Linked DNA regions of Homo sapiens. The protein of the gene in region 2 purifies or fractionates together with the protein of the main gene of each other region. This does not show direct contact. Each region holds a gene or a part of one and is shown on either strand. Other genes may lie near its edges.

What was found.
Region 1: the proteins of ULK4 (region 2) and MTR purify together in Homo sapiens (affinity purification with mass spectrometry; one large-scale study listed by BioGRID and IntAct). This does not show direct contact.
Region 3: the proteins of ULK4 (region 2) and ERC1 purify together in Homo sapiens (affinity purification with mass spectrometry; one large-scale study listed by BioGRID and IntAct). This does not show direct contact.

What each region holds. Positions count from the first base shown.
Region 1 is NC_000001.11:236,850,678-236,854,334, forward strand, and holds part of MTR (methionine synthase), read left to right. Parts: intron 1-1,843; coding exon 1,844-1,960; intron 1,961-2,270; coding exon 2,271-2,411; intron 2,412-3,657. UniProt on the Homo sapiens protein: Catalyzes the transfer of a methyl group from methylcob(III)alamin (MeCbl) to homocysteine, yielding enzyme-bound cob(I)alamin and methionine in the cytosol. MeCbl is an active form of cobalamin (vitamin B12) used as a cofactor for methionine biosynthesis.
Region 2 is NC_000003.12:41,248,993-41,252,151, forward strand, and holds part of ULK4 (serine/threonine-protein kinase ULK4), read right to left. Parts: intron 583-3,159; coding exon 497-582; intron 1-496. UniProt on the Homo sapiens protein: May be involved in the remodeling of cytoskeletal components, such as alpha-tubulin, and in this way regulates neurite branching and elongation, as well as cell motility.
Region 3 is NC_000012.12:1,493,703-1,496,464, reverse strand, and holds the end of ERC1 (ELKS/Rab6-interacting/CAST family member 1), read right to left. Parts: 3' UTR 534-2,762; downstream 1-533. UniProt on the Homo sapiens protein: Regulatory subunit of the IKK complex. Probably recruits IkappaBalpha/NFKBIA to the complex. May be involved in the organization of the cytomatrix at the nerve terminals active zone (CAZ) which regulates neurotransmitter release.

The DNA.
Region 1 (3,657 bases), on a different chromosome or scaffold from region 2:
TTTTCTTTAGTAGAGTTTTAACTTGTGTAACAAACAGACTGGAGAACATAACAGAGCCTGATGAACTCGCTTGAACCCAGGAGGGTGGAGGTTGCATTGAGCTGGGATCACGCCAGTGCGCTCTAGCCTGGGCGACAGAGTGAGGCCCTGCCTTGAACAAAATGATGCAAAACAAAAAAACCACAGAACCTGATAAATAATTAATTATGAAGCATATAAGAGCCTTCACTTAGGTCCCAAAATAGAGCATAGCTAGCGCCCCCGTCTGTCTCTCCTTTTCCAGTTACACCTCATTCTCAATTTTATAAAGTAGCTATTGTCCTGAGTTTTATGACGCTACTCTGTTGCTTTTCTTCATAAATTTATTGCTTATATATGTAGATTTGATTTGCATCATCTATGGATTTTATATTTGCAAATTCATGTACTTACTGAAATTTATTTGTGACCCCAAAATCAATACTCAACGTCACTTCTGCAGTTGTTCAGACTTACCCATATGCAGAGTGGTGGAAAATTTGAGTGGCCCAACCCATATTATTCCCAAAGAGGGCAAACATGGCAGTGACCTACCTTCTTATTTCAGCTCTCATCCTGTACACAGATGTCCTTTTTGCAGTCTAATGCCATGTTTTTCACACTTTTATGCGTTTTGTTGGTGAGGTCACTTTTTAAAATGGCCCCATACTAGTGCTGTCTAGTGTTCTAAGCACAAGAAGGCTGTGATGTTCCTTAGGGAGGAAATATGTGTGTTAGATAAGCTTTGTTCAGACATGAATTATAGTGCCATTGGCTGTGAATTCAGTCTTAATGAATCAACAGTAAATATTAGATACAGCATCTTAACATACATGCACAAAACAAGGTTATGTATTGATTGGTTGACAAAAATGTCATCAGAGGCTCATAGGAACCTAGCCCTGTATTTCTCCTAGGAGCAATGCTCTGGTATTCCCTAATTCAGTGTTTGCAGTGACTTTAAAGAACATAACTACCACAAAATAGTAAGAATTGACTGAATATCTGAATGATATAGTTTGGTTTTGCCTGCTTTTGAGCCTAATAAAAATAGAATCGTAATATTTTTATGTTTTTTTCTTACTCCATACTAAAGATTTATCTGTGTGGCTGTAGCTGTTTGTTCATTTTTATTAATGTATAATATTCTATGGTATAACTATACCACAATTAACTGTTCTATTGTTGATGGACATCTAGTTTTTTTCCAGCTTTTGGACATTATGAACAATGCAGCTCTGAGTATTCTTATATATGTATCTTAGACATGCATGCCTGAACTTCTCTGTAGCATAGACCCAGAAGTGGTTGGCTCATAGTAGTAGATAATGACAAACTGTCTCCCTAGATTCTTGAGCCAATAATAGTGAAAGTTCCTGTTATTCCACAAGCCTGATGATGCTTGATACTGTCATCGGTATGGTTGGAACTTCAATTTCCTTTTGTCCTTTTATAGTCGGTCAAGTTCATAGTGAACTAGGGAGTCTGTTCATTTAGGCTATGGAAGCCTTCTAGTAATTTGTACTTTCAGTGAATAAGGAATTCCTCTTTGTCTTTCTGCGTGTGTGTGTGTGTGTGTGTACGCGCGTGTTCTCCTTAGGGAGATTGGAGTCTAGTAGGAAAAACTACTTACGAAGCAGCGCCTTTGTAATACTGTAATACGGCAAGCTTTGGTCTATGTCTAGTAACAAGAAGCTCTGAATTACTTTGAACTTCGGATGCTTTTTGTTTTTTTTTCTTTCCACTCCTATATAAAGCTTAAGAGATGTGATTGCTGTTTTTGGCAAAAAAGGGGAATCTTTTCATATTTTAAAATTTTTGCCAGGAAACATTACCTGGAGCCAGAATAAGTGGAGGTCTTTCCAACTTGTCCTTCTCCTTCCGAGGAATGGAAGCCATTCGAGAAGCAATGCATGGGGTTTTCCTTTACCATGCAATCAAGGTATGGTAGAAGAACTCTTAGCCCTGCGGAAACCAGTTTTTAGTTGGGGCAGGGGTTTTCAAAGTGTGGCATGCAGGCTAAGTCCGGCCTGCTGCCAGTTTCTGTAAATAAGATTTTATTGGGATAGAGCCACACCTATTCATTTGTATCTTGTCTGTGGCTGCTTTTATGCTGTAACTACAAAGTTGAGTAGCTGTGACAGAGGCTATGGCCTAAAATATTTCTCTCTGGCCCTTTACAGAGAAAAGTTTGCTGATCGCTGACTTAAGGTATCACTGTAAATTCTCATTTTTATTTGTATTGCCCTTAGTCTGGCATGGACATGGGGATAGTGAATGCTGGAAACCTCCCTGTGTATGATGATATCCATAAGGAACTTCTGCAGCTCTGTGAAGATCTCATCTGGAATAAAGACCCTGAGGCCACTGAGAAGCTCTTACGTTATGCCCAGGTAGAGAGACAAGTGTTCTAATAGATGGATTTTTCCTATCTTTGAATGTATTACTCACCTACAGTTAGTAGACCTTCATGGTGGAATAGAAGCAAATATCGAATCATATATTTGGATCACTGAAGATTTCTACAGAGAGTTGCAGAGATGGTGGTGTAGCTAGGGCAAGGAAGGGTAAACAGACCATGCCTAGGGTGCTTCCGTATTCTGAACTTAGGTTTCTTTAAATTTATTGTAAAATGTAAAATTAATTTTTCTTGTACCAAGTAACATATTAGTTCTAGAAAATTTACAAAATTCTGGTAAGCAAAGGAAGAAAATAAAAATCACTTGTAATCCTACCACCCAAAGTTAAACACTTGAGATTTTGTTATAACCTTTAAGTGATGGGAGTTTTTATTTCTTTTTGCAAAATGAATATGCATGCATAGGTACATATACATACATTTTTTACAAAAATAGAACTATACTCTAGATGCTTTTATGGTAATATTTTTTTCTTAGCAGTGTACTGGGAACATATTTCCATTTTACTTGATATTTTTCTACCTCATTATTTAAAATAGCTGTTCTGGATTTTCTTGTGTGGCTATGTTAGTGTTACATGGTCCCCACTGTTCCATGTTTTGGTTTGTATACCTGTTTATGTTAGGATCTGGTCCATCTGTGGCAAAGTTCTGCAGTTCAAGGCTTAGGTCTGTGCACATTTGATGTGTAAAAAATGAGTATAATTATAGCTAATTCAAACACCAGCTTGTTTCTCATTTATATGTTGGGCGCAGTCCTAGGCACATGAAGTATCTATCGTAGATGGTTCTTCTTAGAATTCAGTTTAAGGAAAGTTGAGATCTTTACCTCAAAAGAACTTGCATTTTAATCTGTTTAAGAGAATGATGGCAAAGGAAGATATTTTTCCCACAAAGCATGTTGAGAAAGTGGTAGGATGCTTTTGTGTCTCTTGCCAACTTTGTTAATGTTTTCCATGTTAGAATCTGAATTTAGCTCTGATAGAACTGCCAACTTTGCCTCTTCCACAGAAGAGTAATAAAATGCTCTGGAAGAAGGATAGGACACTATGAGATTAACCACATCCTTGTTTTATCAGCCTTACTGGTAGTAAGACTTAGATTTCTGAAATTGCTTATGGAAGCCTTAGGCTCAACAAAGCTGAAAGGAGTTCAGACACTGTGCCAACGCTCACACGACCCTCCTCTCAGTTCCTTAAAAACATTTCCAGTTTCTCATG
Region 2 (3,159 bases):
GAACTTCTGGCTGAGGAAGGTAACCTGGTGCAGCAGAGCAGGCTAAGCTGTCACATTTGCCCCAGCCCTGCCTGGGCCTTGAGTCCTCCACAAGGTGGTGATGAGGATGCCTCTGGCTGGGCTGCTGATGGGGGCATGTGTGCACAGGCCAGGGGCTGCCTTTCTCATGAGGTTCCTTGCATCTCCCACTTGGTCATCCACTCAACCTCTTCAGGGGCCTCAAGGTGGGAATATTGTTTCCCCTGGCAGGACTAAGACTTTCTCTCCCCCTGTTGATTCCTGTCCCCTCACTTTCCCCACCATAACTGGGGATTCCCAGTGTGTGGAGTGGCAGAGCTTCCCTTCCCACACTGGGAAGGATCTCAGTGGACAGTGATGGGCTGGAAGGTGGTAGTCCCTGGTGTGGAGGGAGATGAGTGGGAGGAGTGGAGAAAGGAATGGCTGAGAGTGTGTGCTGATCTAGAGCAGACTGCTGATCCTCCTGGGTCCCACTTACCCACTCCCAGGGGCCAGCCGCTCCAGAGCCCGCAGGAGGCTGCCTGCATTCTTGAGGCTCTCCAAGTGCTTCTCATTGGAGGTGATCTGCAAGGGCAGGAGGAAGAAGACAGTGGTCAGCTGACCCGTCCCTGACTCATGCCCTGTTGGATGGGCACCCTGAGTATCAGGCCTGCATGGTGCTGTGGCTGCCTAAGGCACTGGGGGGTGTCCCCTGGGCTTGTCTGTAACCCCCATGCGTAACCTCCCCCACAGAGTGTTGCTGACCAAGGGGAAAGAGGCAGGACACTGGTGGTCCTCAGGGGAGGGGACAAGGCAGTCTGCTGGGGCAGAAGACGGCCAGTTCAGGGCAGGGAGCCTCCTGCGGATCTCTCAGGAGAGTTTGTGTCTGGGAACCTGAACTTTCCAATTAAAGCAAAACTACTTTTTCTGTGCTGGGACTCAAGAGGCCTGGCTAGCAACTGGAAATCTGTCTTTGGGGCTCTCAGCCCAACATGATCTCTTTCACGTGGATAGAAGGATGCCAAGAAGGTGCCTGGGGACCTGGGAGAGAGGCATTAATAACTAAACCCCAGGAAGTGTGCCCATGCTAATCGCCACAGTCCTATGAGAAAAACACTTGGGCATGCCTGACTCTGTAGCACCTATTTGCAGAATCATACACTCTCAGGGCTAGAATAGGCTCAGGTGGGGATTTATCTAGACCCACAATTCTAGACCCACCCAGAGACCTCACAATTCAGACCCTCCATAAAATGAGTCCATGTCCTGAAAGGCAGAGAAGAGAAGGCTTTGATTCTACTATTAGACTTGCTTCTCTTAATTCACCGTTGCCTCCTATTGTTATCTTTGTTAGTTTAAAATTTCTTGTAATAAACGCTTGTATGGCACTTTACATTTCAGAATGCTGTTTCCTATATGTTTTCTCATTTAATCTTCTCAACAGCCTACCTTACAAGGTAAGTATATATCATGTTTTATTTATGAGGTAACCAAAGCTGAAATTAAGGGGCTGCTACAGGAGTCCACACGGAGCCAGACTGTCTCCCCACCACGAAGGTGGAACCAGGATGGCTTCAGCTGACTTTGATCACAGCAACCGAGGCTGGATTATTGTCTCCTTAGTTAAGAGGCTCAACATTTTTTAATCAACCACTCATGATAGGTCACAGGGGTAACTAAACATTAACATGAACTCTGAATTATATATGAATGCATTCGCACCTCCACTGAGATCCTCTCCCACCTTCCTGAGTATGCCAGAGAACAGCTGCCAGTTCAACTGCATCAGGTGTGATTTCTGCAAAGATTTGCATCTCGGAAGAGCTGCATGTAAATTTGTTCTGAAATTGCACCCAACTTGATGTGTTCAAAAGACTACTGCTTAAAAATGCCAGCTGTAGTTCAATTATGTCTGAAGTATGCATAAACTTACACTGAAGGTACACTCCCCATCAGGCGTCTTCAGTGAGGATTCCCACTTCATTTTTCTCAGAACTGCCTCAAACAGGTCAGCTGACTACATCCAGGCTCAGTGCCCCGACCAGCCCTGCCATGAGATTGTGTGCAGAGGCTGTGCTCCCAGGAAATCACCCACAAGTTGCAAATAAATCAGAAGATGACTTTCATCCACAAGGCTGGTTAGAAGGTGCAAATAGAAATCTACAGTGACAGTTATGTGATCAAAGGAAGATGCCAAAATGGTATCATGTGTAGCTGACATAAATGTAGACATAAACAACGCCAATTGAAAACTACGTGGTTTGGCCATTTACCTGACTCTTATTCATAACATCAGCTGTTGTTCTGTATATAAGGATGAGTTAATTCAAAAATAAAAATTTTAAATTATATCAATCAGAGGTTCCAGTTCTGCGTAAGACAGAGAAAACACATGACACTCTTTCTCTCCCTCTGGATGCAAATCTACAGCGCAGCTATTTCAGAACACTGAAAAGCAAACAGCAACAGGTAAATAGGAGAGGACACTGAATTCAAAGCACCACTGAACTGGCAGTGAGTTTACCACTTCTTTCTTAGCCTGGATGCAACAAACCCAAACCCCAAAAGCCCTAGAAGAAACCCAGCTTGAGGAATAGAGAAGGGAAATCCCCAAAACCCTAGAGAGTAGATGAAACCCCCTCAAGATTGCTTTGCTCTTTTTTCTCCATCCTCTTGTGTCCCAGGCCATTCTGTGATGGCAGCAGTGGTAGTGGGGACAGAGGTGGCAGCAACAATAGCCAGCAAGAGGAGCCTGCAACCAGATCTCTATTCTTTCTCTGTTCTCCTAGTGTTTGGCCTGGATGTTGCATAATCATGGAACTAGGCAGTTTTAGGCCAGATAAAAAATGGGAAACCCAGAGAACCAGAAAGTACTGGGGAGAGAATGAATCAAGAAGAGCTTAGTAAAGTTACTCCATAAAACTGTTTATGAACTCTTGGCCTCACCCCCAACCTGTGTATGCATGGAACCGATCCCAATAGCATGCCCCAGAATTGAAGAACTGAGGTAACAAATATATCTCTGCTCACATCCCAGACTGACCCCTGGGGAGGGACACACCAGATAGATGCACATAGCACTGCAAAACCTGTGAAACCAATATGACACTGAAATTACAATTCCAACCTGCAGCCTGAACCTAATCAGCATGATTGCTTGCT
Region 3 (2,762 bases), on a different chromosome or scaffold from region 2:
GCCGCGTCCAAGCACAGGGTTTCTCGGCTCCTTTTACTCTTGGCACACACACTTTCTGTTGACCCAGCCTGCACGCCCCAGAGTCAGTGCATCAGAACGCGCCCTGCTGAAGCTTGAGTCCCAGTCCTGGGCAAAGCCCTCCCTTGGTGGCCGCCCTTCTGGCTCTTCTACCTTGGTACAACAGCAGCACCATCCCTCAGCGCTGGGCACCTACTCTAAGCTCTGGAACAGTGAGACCTGATACGGATAACCTGGCCCGGGGCTGAGGGTAGAAAGAAGGAAAAAGGGAACCGGGAATTGACTTTAAAAGCTGCAAACCCGGAGATCAGGCGGGAAGGGAAAGGAGGCTCATGCCCGTCAGGGCTGTGATGACTCCCACACCCACCGTAAATCCTGGGACCCCTGGCCCTCGGGCTGCCTGCCATTGGAGTTGGCCTCTTGGGCACTGCAGACCTTGTCCATCTTTTCTAGCATTTGGGGACACACCTTGCCTGGATGATCAGCTGGGTGACACTCAAAGAAGGACACAGCACGGTTTTTAAATAACTTTATAATTTCCTGGTGGATTTAGTTTGTGAATAAAAAAGAAAAAATGAACAAAGTGTTTACAATAATTATCAAGGCAAAGTTGAATATAACACAATTTCTTTGTAATGTCATTATCCTGTCAGTAACACAACTCCAGCAGGAACACACACATACAGCTGAAGGCAGCGGGTGCACGTGCATCCCAGACACCACCATGGAGGCTGCTACTGTTACCAAAAGGAACTCAAGCTACAAGGGGGCAGGTGCTCCTCAGCTCCTCCACTAAAGTGCAACACTTCTCTTCTGACGCATCAGGGAGCAGTCACAGGCCCCACTGGATATCCTGCAATGCCCGGCAGGTGCCTGGGCTAGTCCTGCGATGGGCCAGCAGGCCAGAGTGGGTGGTGCTGCCCTCAGGATGTGTAGCTGCAGTAGATGGATGCAATACTGGCGTGGTGTGGAATGAGGGGCTGGACCCAGAGGGCCTGCTTTGGCCGGGGTGAATTCTCTGGCTTCAGTAGGGTTCACTTCCTTTCCTGACAGTGGCTTCTCTGGGGTCAAGAGAGAGCCTGGGCCTAGGAGATCTAGGGTCTAAAAAAGCTCAAAGGGAAATAATTGAGGGCCTGAAGCCAGAAGGAACTGACATGGAGGACAGTCTGTTCCACCTGGATTGCAGGCTCCAGGCTGGCCAGTGCTCACCCGTGCTGGGTGGTCACTGGAAGAGATAGCACCAAGTGGGCAGGAGAGGTCCTGTGGCCTGCCAGGCAGGGGCTTCAGGGTCAAGCCCAGGTTACCATGCAGTATTAGGCACACTGAGCTAGAACCCACGTCGGGTGAGGGTGGTTATGGGGTCACAAACTGTGAAACCTCTACCCAGAGGTCCTGAACATGTATAGGAAAATCCTGGCACAACTGCGAGGCTCTGAGCCCCAGATTCTCGTTCCTTTTGCTCGGCAGGTGTCTCTTGCCCAGGCAGGCACTACCCTAAGTGTGCTCCATGCTTCCTAAGCCGCCAGCCCAGGGCCACCTATGCCAGCCTGGGAGGAGGGGAGTGTGGCTGCCCCATAGCTTGAATTCCTTTATTAACAAGATATTGGTTTGCATTTTTAAAACACAGCTGTTTAATTTTTCATTTCTACAACTACGTTTTAATCTTTTAATAATCTCAACAACAGACACAATGTAACTGCCCCAATTCTCTGAATCACACAGACAATATCGACAAGCAGAGAAAGAAGAGAGGAGGTGGGATGGGACAAAAACCCGCTCCCCCAAATCAATCCCTAAAACCACTTCTCCCCCAAGAGTCAGGAGAAGTACCTACAACAGGGCCACAGCACTTGCCAAACACATTGGAAAAAATCAGGAGACAGTTGGTTACATTTTTGACACTAAAAAGTCTGGAGACGGTTTTTGCTGAAGAGTAGGTGAAGATAGCCATTTTGTTCAGAAGGATTTCCCTGTAATGTATGTCTTTTCTTGCAAGAAGAGTAGGTGAAGACAGCCATTTTGTTCAGAAGGATTTCCCTGTAATGTATGTCTTTTCTTGCCTAATTCTTCCCTAATTTGCATGGGGGAAACTCCAGATCCTCTTTAAGACATTCCTTTGAGTGGTTCACGTCCCCTCCTGAGCAGCCCAGGGCTGGCAGTGATGGACGGGCGGCCTCACTCTGCAGAGGGTGCCTGCTGCATTGCAGTCTCTTCTCATCCTTCCTCCTCAGTTCCGAACCCAGGCAGGTGAAGAGGAGGCCAGGAGCAGATGTTAAATTACTGGTATTTGCTGACACAGGGTCCGCTGGGCTTGAGAAATGCCATGTGGTGTCACACTCCACGCAGCGGTCTTCTCTGCTTGGCTCTTTCCTCAAAGACTCTGAGGGTCTTGACACCGGGCCTACACTCAAGTAACATGGTCAACAGGAGGGCGGGATGGTTCTGGGAGGAACAGGACTCTGGCAGCAAATCCAAATGCCAGTGGATGGGCGGCTCAGAAACATTTATATTTTGGGGTGACACATGATGGTTGCCTCACAACCCTGACCCTCAATAGCGGAGGGATTAGTTCAGCAGGTGGCTAAGACCGTGTCTGTGATGACTTCGCCTTCCTCTTCTCTCACTCTGGGGGTGGGTGAGCCCGCAAGTTCCTCATGGAAAACCAGACTTCAATGGACAGAAATTGAGGGGCAAGTCACAATGCCCTTCTTGACACTGAAGGCGGCCTTGGGTCCAGTCTGCTT